2 separate regions of the Homo sapiens genome follow, and region 1 is linked to region 2. The links come from fine-mapping of genetic effects on gene expression. A gene starts in region 2. The other region holds a variant in brackets. All regions are shown on one strand. Distances are between the middles of the regions. Region 1 overlaps ADAMTS12 (ADAM metallopeptidase with thrombospondin type 1 motif 12). Region 2 holds the start of RXFP3 (relaxin family peptide receptor 3).

Evidence for each region. PIP is the estimated chance that this variant, and not a neighbour inherited with it, causes the effect. A credible set is the group of variants that fine-mapping cannot tell apart.
Region 1: its variant is the best candidate, but not a certain one, in a credible set for the expression of RXFP3 in adrenal gland (GTEx, PIP 0.90).

The regions. Positions count from the first base shown.
Region 1 is chr5:33,823,399-33,826,311 of GRCh38, forward strand. All of the region lies in intron 2 of ADAMTS12 (ADAM metallopeptidase with thrombospondin type 1 motif 12), which reads right to left. Among named protein-coding and RNA genes, the nearest start is that of ADAMTS12, 67 kb to the right of the region's middle. The variant G/A (reference allele first, on the strand shown) is at 1,587.
Region 2 is chr5:33,935,126-33,938,038 of GRCh38, forward strand. RXFP3 (relaxin family peptide receptor 3) reads left to right here and starts at 1,261. Exons shown (of 1, transcript NM_016568.3): 1 at 1,261-2,913. The coding sequence starts at 1,616.

The sequences.
Region 1 (2,913 bases), 110 kb before region 2:
ATATCTTTTGTTATCCTCTCTTTTTTATGTAGTTATTCACAAGAGAAACAACATCCTTCAACCACTAGCAAACAAGGTACAAATATAATGATCAATGGTGACTACCACATGTTGGTCTTAGTGTCAGAAAAAAAGAGAGGTAGTGGTGGGAGCTACAGTGAGTAGACGGGACTCACCCTGTAGGGAGGGGAGACTCAGCCCCCAGTGACTCTGGCCCAGCTGGCATAAAAGCCTATTGCTATAACATTTTCTGCCTTTTTTTTTTTTAAGAAGAAGAAACTTCACATGTTTAGGTGGAAACTCCTGATATTTACCTGTCAGTTTTGGCTTATTTTCAATATTATGGAATCCAAATAAAATATGTTGTATGTCTTCGTTAATCCGTTTCAGAATGACCCTTGAGATTCCTTCAATGAGAAAAAATTATCTGATTGAGACAGGGGTCTCGTTTTTAGAATAAAAAATAGGGTGAATTGGGGCAGAGAAGGAAGAGTGTGAAGAAAAATAATTGATGAATATGTTGGTTAATTGGACTGTGGTGATCATTATGCTATGCATACATGTATCAAATCATGTTATACACCTTGAATATATACAATTTTTACTGGTCAGTTATATACCCCAATAAAGCTTGTTGAAAAAGAAAAAAGTTTTAAATTGTTAAAGAGTCCCAAGCATATCATGGTCATGAGCCAACTCACTCACTGAGGAAAACCTCTTTCTTCTCAATAATAATAGATCATAACAAGCACTAAGATATCCTAAGAACTAAATCCCAGATACTGGGCTAGGGCTTTATATGGTTAATTTTACTTCACCTCAAGGTCACACAGCTTGAGCCTGACCCAGGACTCAACCCTAGACTTCTATGCTACCTTCCCGTGAAGCCACCTGCCAGAAGACGGGAACAGAAAGGGGGGACTTACGGGTTTGCAGCAGCCCCAGTGAAGAGCTGTGGGCCTCGAATGCCCTTGAAGGTAGGTTCCCTTCTATATTAAAAGATCATTTGGTCAGTTCATTTTTAGAAGAGGACATTGCCCCCAGGTTTACATTTTTGTAGGCTTCAATGGAGCAAGTTAGTCCATATAAAAATAAAAAACAAATGAGCAATCATAACATAATCATACCTAAAGAATAGATTCCTCCACTCTAAGTCACTGTCTTCATCCAGACCAGGAGTGTAAAGCAAAAAAGAGAGGGCTGTGCTGGTTGCCTGAGAAGAGGAGCCTGTCAGCTGTGCTAATGAGTGGCTGTCTAGGGGCAGGCCATCAGTTCAGGAGTACAAGTGAGGAAGAAAGGCTCGTGACAGTGTTGCAGCAGAGACTGCCTCAGTGTTCACCTTCCCATTTCCTCTTTCTGGTCACACAAGAAAACTTCCCAGCATCCCTTGCTCTGTAAAGTTACACAGTTAAGGCTAGGATGATACTTCCCAATCTGGCCCCTAAAATCTCCTAGAAGACTCTCAGCTCATACTTTGATAGCTTTTCAGCAGAATGGGAAGTGAGGGACTCTAACACTGCAAAAGCCACATGATGAAGGAGTTTGGATTCCTGAGCTACCACTGGAAGGAGAGTTATTTCTTGGAG[G/A]GGAGCCATCCCACTAGAGATGCTGACCCAGACTGTGCTATCGTGTGAATGAGAAATAAAATTTGATATTAGCCACTAAGATTTGGCAGCTGTGTGTTAAAAGTAGCTAGCAAGCACATCCTAATAGAGTTCCCGGGAAAACTACAGCGGTTTCACCCATGCTTATGCAAAGATCCAGTTTGCAAAATCATTTCTGCTCTGCAAAGAGCTTACTATTAAGAAGGTCTCTTTGTGGAGGTGGCTCCACAAAGCATGCTGAAAATCCCTTATATGTATGAAGAGTCAAGTCATCTACTGAAATTCCAGACAAATCTTCCTGACCATATCCAAGAACACAGAGTACGTGCAAGTTTCCAGGATTCTGGTGATATCAATGAATGTGCTGTGGGCTCAAACTTTTTAGAGAGGAAAACTGAGCTGGATATATCATGTCATTAGATGAGAGATTTAGTCAGTGGCCAAAGCTGGATGAGTGTAAGTAAGAGCTGCATGAATGTTGCAGAAACTCTGGCAAAGAGGAAAATTTGTACATTCAGGATTTGTGTTGCAGATGCTACACAAACCCAAAAGGAACTAAAGGGCAAAAAGCATATGAGTCTCTTAACTAATTGCATAAAACTATTTGATCAAGGTAGTGCTTTAAAATTTTATGTGATCAGAATTGTTTTTGTTTTTGCAAAGAAAGATCAGGTAATTTCCAGTGATAATTCTAAAATGTATGGTTTTTGCTTTGCAAATCGATAGAGGAAGAAGCAATAATCCATTATACAAAAACTCTCTGGAAGTGGGAGAGAAAGTAAGACCAAACGGCAAGCAATTCTTTCCAAATGAGTTTTGGTTCAACTCCTCCGTGGAGACCTTGCTAGCAGTATTCTTGTCATGTGGTTCCTCAGTTATGTAACCAGAAGAGAGTATCTCCAAACTAGAATCAAGTTTGGTCTAGATGCTGTGGCTGCACCAGCTCACCTCTGCAAATTGAATTTAGAAAACTCCACACTGGAACAGATCTCTACCTTGCCATAGTTGAACAGGCGGTACACATCATTTGACTTCGTTATGTGAACTGCAGTTAGGAGGTGTTAAAAAAAGAAGTCCTCTTAAAAACAGGGAAGATGAAACTACATCACCTCTATACTCCTAGATGATTTGTTGGTGAGAAGAGTTAGGGACATTTCTAAGGGAAGTCAAGAAATAAATTGTTTTCTCTACTTCTCTTTGAAAATTTTATATTCAATTTATGCATCTTGATGTGGTCTACAATAGTGTGCTTAGCAAAGAACTTTTCTTCCTCAGCTATGGAACTTAAACTTATAAAAATGATAGTCTG
Region 2 (2,913 bases):
CCTCTTTATCTCCTTAAGTAAAGCTGGGAGTTCTGTAGTACTCCAGGAGTGAGGACAATTATGCTTAAGAAACTTTGGTTTCAGTTTAGTCCCAGACCAAGAGGAAAACATTTCAAAATTTTAAAGTAAATCCTAAAAGTGTAATTTACACCAGAGCGATTGACCTGGCATTTATGTAGACTGAAGCTTGAGAAGTAATTCAAGTGGTTTCCACTCATTCCCTTGGAAGAGTCCTTAGAATGTACTTCCATTGGTCTGAAAAACGCCTGAAAAAGAGTCCTGATGCTAACAGTAATGGAAATAGGAGGGCTGGTGGTTCACGATCAGCCCAGTGGTATCCTCTATTCTATTTGCATCTAGGTAAAGAGACTGTGGCCTGTATGTGATCAAACAATTTGTTGAAGCGCTTTGGGCTTAGGGCATTTAATTTCTGTGAAGTAGGACCATCAGTTGTTTGCTCTGTTTTTGTGTCACCTCTCAGAATACATTAAAGTAGGGGCAACCCTTGAGCCCAGACTTCTGCCATGTGAAGACCCTTTGAAAATCCTGACAAACACAGGTACTGCGTAAGTGGTCAGCTAATTAAAGAGGGGAGGTGGAGCTGTCCTTTGTGTATCCAATAAGTACCCATTATCTCATTTGAGCATGAAAAGAGGCCACTGTTATTACTTTCAAGAAGGAAAGTAAGCAGGATAGCTCATATTTTTAGAACAATTCCTCACCAAATGGAATAATTCCGGTGAAAAGTGGGAGTGAGGAAGAAAGAAAAAAAAAACTTCTAATCATAATGTTTGGGAATAAGAAAGGAAGAAGAAACTCACGTCAAAGCCGACTTTCTCCTGCAGCTGTAAAATAAACTCTTAAGACCCTTCCTGCTGAAACTCTGGAGAGGAAAACTGGAGTGGCGGGTGGGCTTTGCCTGCAGCTCAACTCTCCCTCGCGGCGCGGGCGCGGCTGGGTTCAGCACCTCGGAAAGCGCCCCTCGCGGCGCCCCGGGATTACGCATGCTCCTTGGGGCCCGCCGCCTTGGCCGTGCAAGTGCCACCGTAACTGGTGAGAGCCGCTGGCAACCCACCCGGAGTTGACAACCGCGGAGAGACGCAGACACCCACTGACCTCCAGGAAGCTGAGCGTGGTGGATGGAACTCTACGATCTCTTTCTCTCCAAGGACGGAAACCTCATCCAAGCAGTCCCAGAGGAAACGGATAAAGGTATTTGAAAGGGAGCGAGCGGCCCCAAATCGCACAATTGAGCGGCTGGGGGAGTTATGCGCCAGTGCCCCAGTGACCGCGGGACACGGAGAGGGGAAGTCTGCGTTGTACATAAGGACCTAGGGACTCCGAGCTTGGCCTGAGAACCCTTGGACGCCGAGTGCTTGCCTTACGGGCTGCACTCCTCAACTCTGCTCCAAAGCAGCCGCTGAGCTCAACTCCTGCGTCCAGGGCGTTCGCTGCGCGCCAGGACGCGCTTAGTACCCAGTTCCTGGGCTCTCTCTTCAGTAGCTGCTTTGAAAGCTCCCACGCACGTCCCGCAGGCTAGCCTGGCAACAAAACTGGGGTAAACCGTGTTATCTTAGGTCTTGTCCCCCAGAACATGACCTAGAGGTACCTGCGCATGCAGATGGCCGATGCAGCCACGATAGCCACCATGAATAAGGCAGCAGGCGGGGACAAGCTAGCAGAACTCTTCAGTCTGGTCCCGGACCTTCTGGAGGCGGCCAACACGAGTGGTAACGCGTCGCTGCAGCTTCCGGACTTGTGGTGGGAGCTGGGGCTGGAGTTGCCGGACGGCGCGCCGCCAGGACATCCCCCGGGCAGCGGCGGGGCAGAGAGCGCGGACACAGAGGCCCGGGTGCGGATTCTCATCAGCGTGGTGTACTGGGTGGTGTGCGCCCTGGGGTTGGCGGGCAACCTGCTGGTTCTCTACCTGATGAAGAGCATGCAGGGCTGGCGCAAGTCCTCTATCAACCTCTTCGTCACCAACCTGGCGCTGACGGACTTTCAGTTTGTGCTCACCCTGCCCTTCTGGGCGGTGGAGAACGCTCTTGACTTCAAATGGCCCTTCGGCAAGGCCATGTGTAAGATCGTGTCCATGGTGACGTCCATGAACATGTACGCCAGCGTGTTCTTCCTCACTGCCATGAGTGTGACGCGCTACCATTCGGTGGCCTCGGCTCTGAAGAGCCACCGGACCCGAGGACACGGCCGGGGCGACTGCTGCGGCCGGAGCCTGGGGGACAGCTGCTGCTTCTCGGCCAAGGCGCTGTGTGTGTGGATCTGGGCTTTGGCCGCGCTGGCCTCGCTGCCCAGTGCCATTTTCTCCACCACGGTCAAGGTGATGGGCGAGGAGCTGTGCCTGGTGCGTTTCCCGGACAAGTTGCTGGGCCGCGACAGGCAGTTCTGGCTGGGCCTCTACCACTCGCAGAAGGTGCTGCTGGGCTTCGTGCTGCCGCTGGGCATCATTATCTTGTGCTACCTGCTGCTGGTGCGCTTCATCGCCGACCGCCGCGCGGCGGGGACCAAAGGAGGGGCCGCGGTAGCCGGAGGACGCCCGACCGGAGCCAGCGCCCGGAGACTGTCGAAGGTCACCAAATCAGTGACCATCGTTGTCCTGTCCTTCTTCCTGTGTTGGCTGCCCAACCAGGCGCTCACCACCTGGAGCATCCTCATCAAGTTCAACGCGGTGCCCTTCAGCCAGGAGTATTTCCTGTGCCAGGTATACGCGTTCCCTGTGAGCGTGTGCCTAGCGCACTCCAACAGCTGCCTCAACCCCGTCCTCTACTGCCTCGTGCGCCGCGAGTTCCGCAAGGCGCTCAAGAGCCTGCTGTGGCGCATCGCGTCTCCTTCGATCACCAGCATGCGCCCCTTCACCGCCACTACCAAGCCGGAGCACGAGGATCAGGGGCTGCAGGC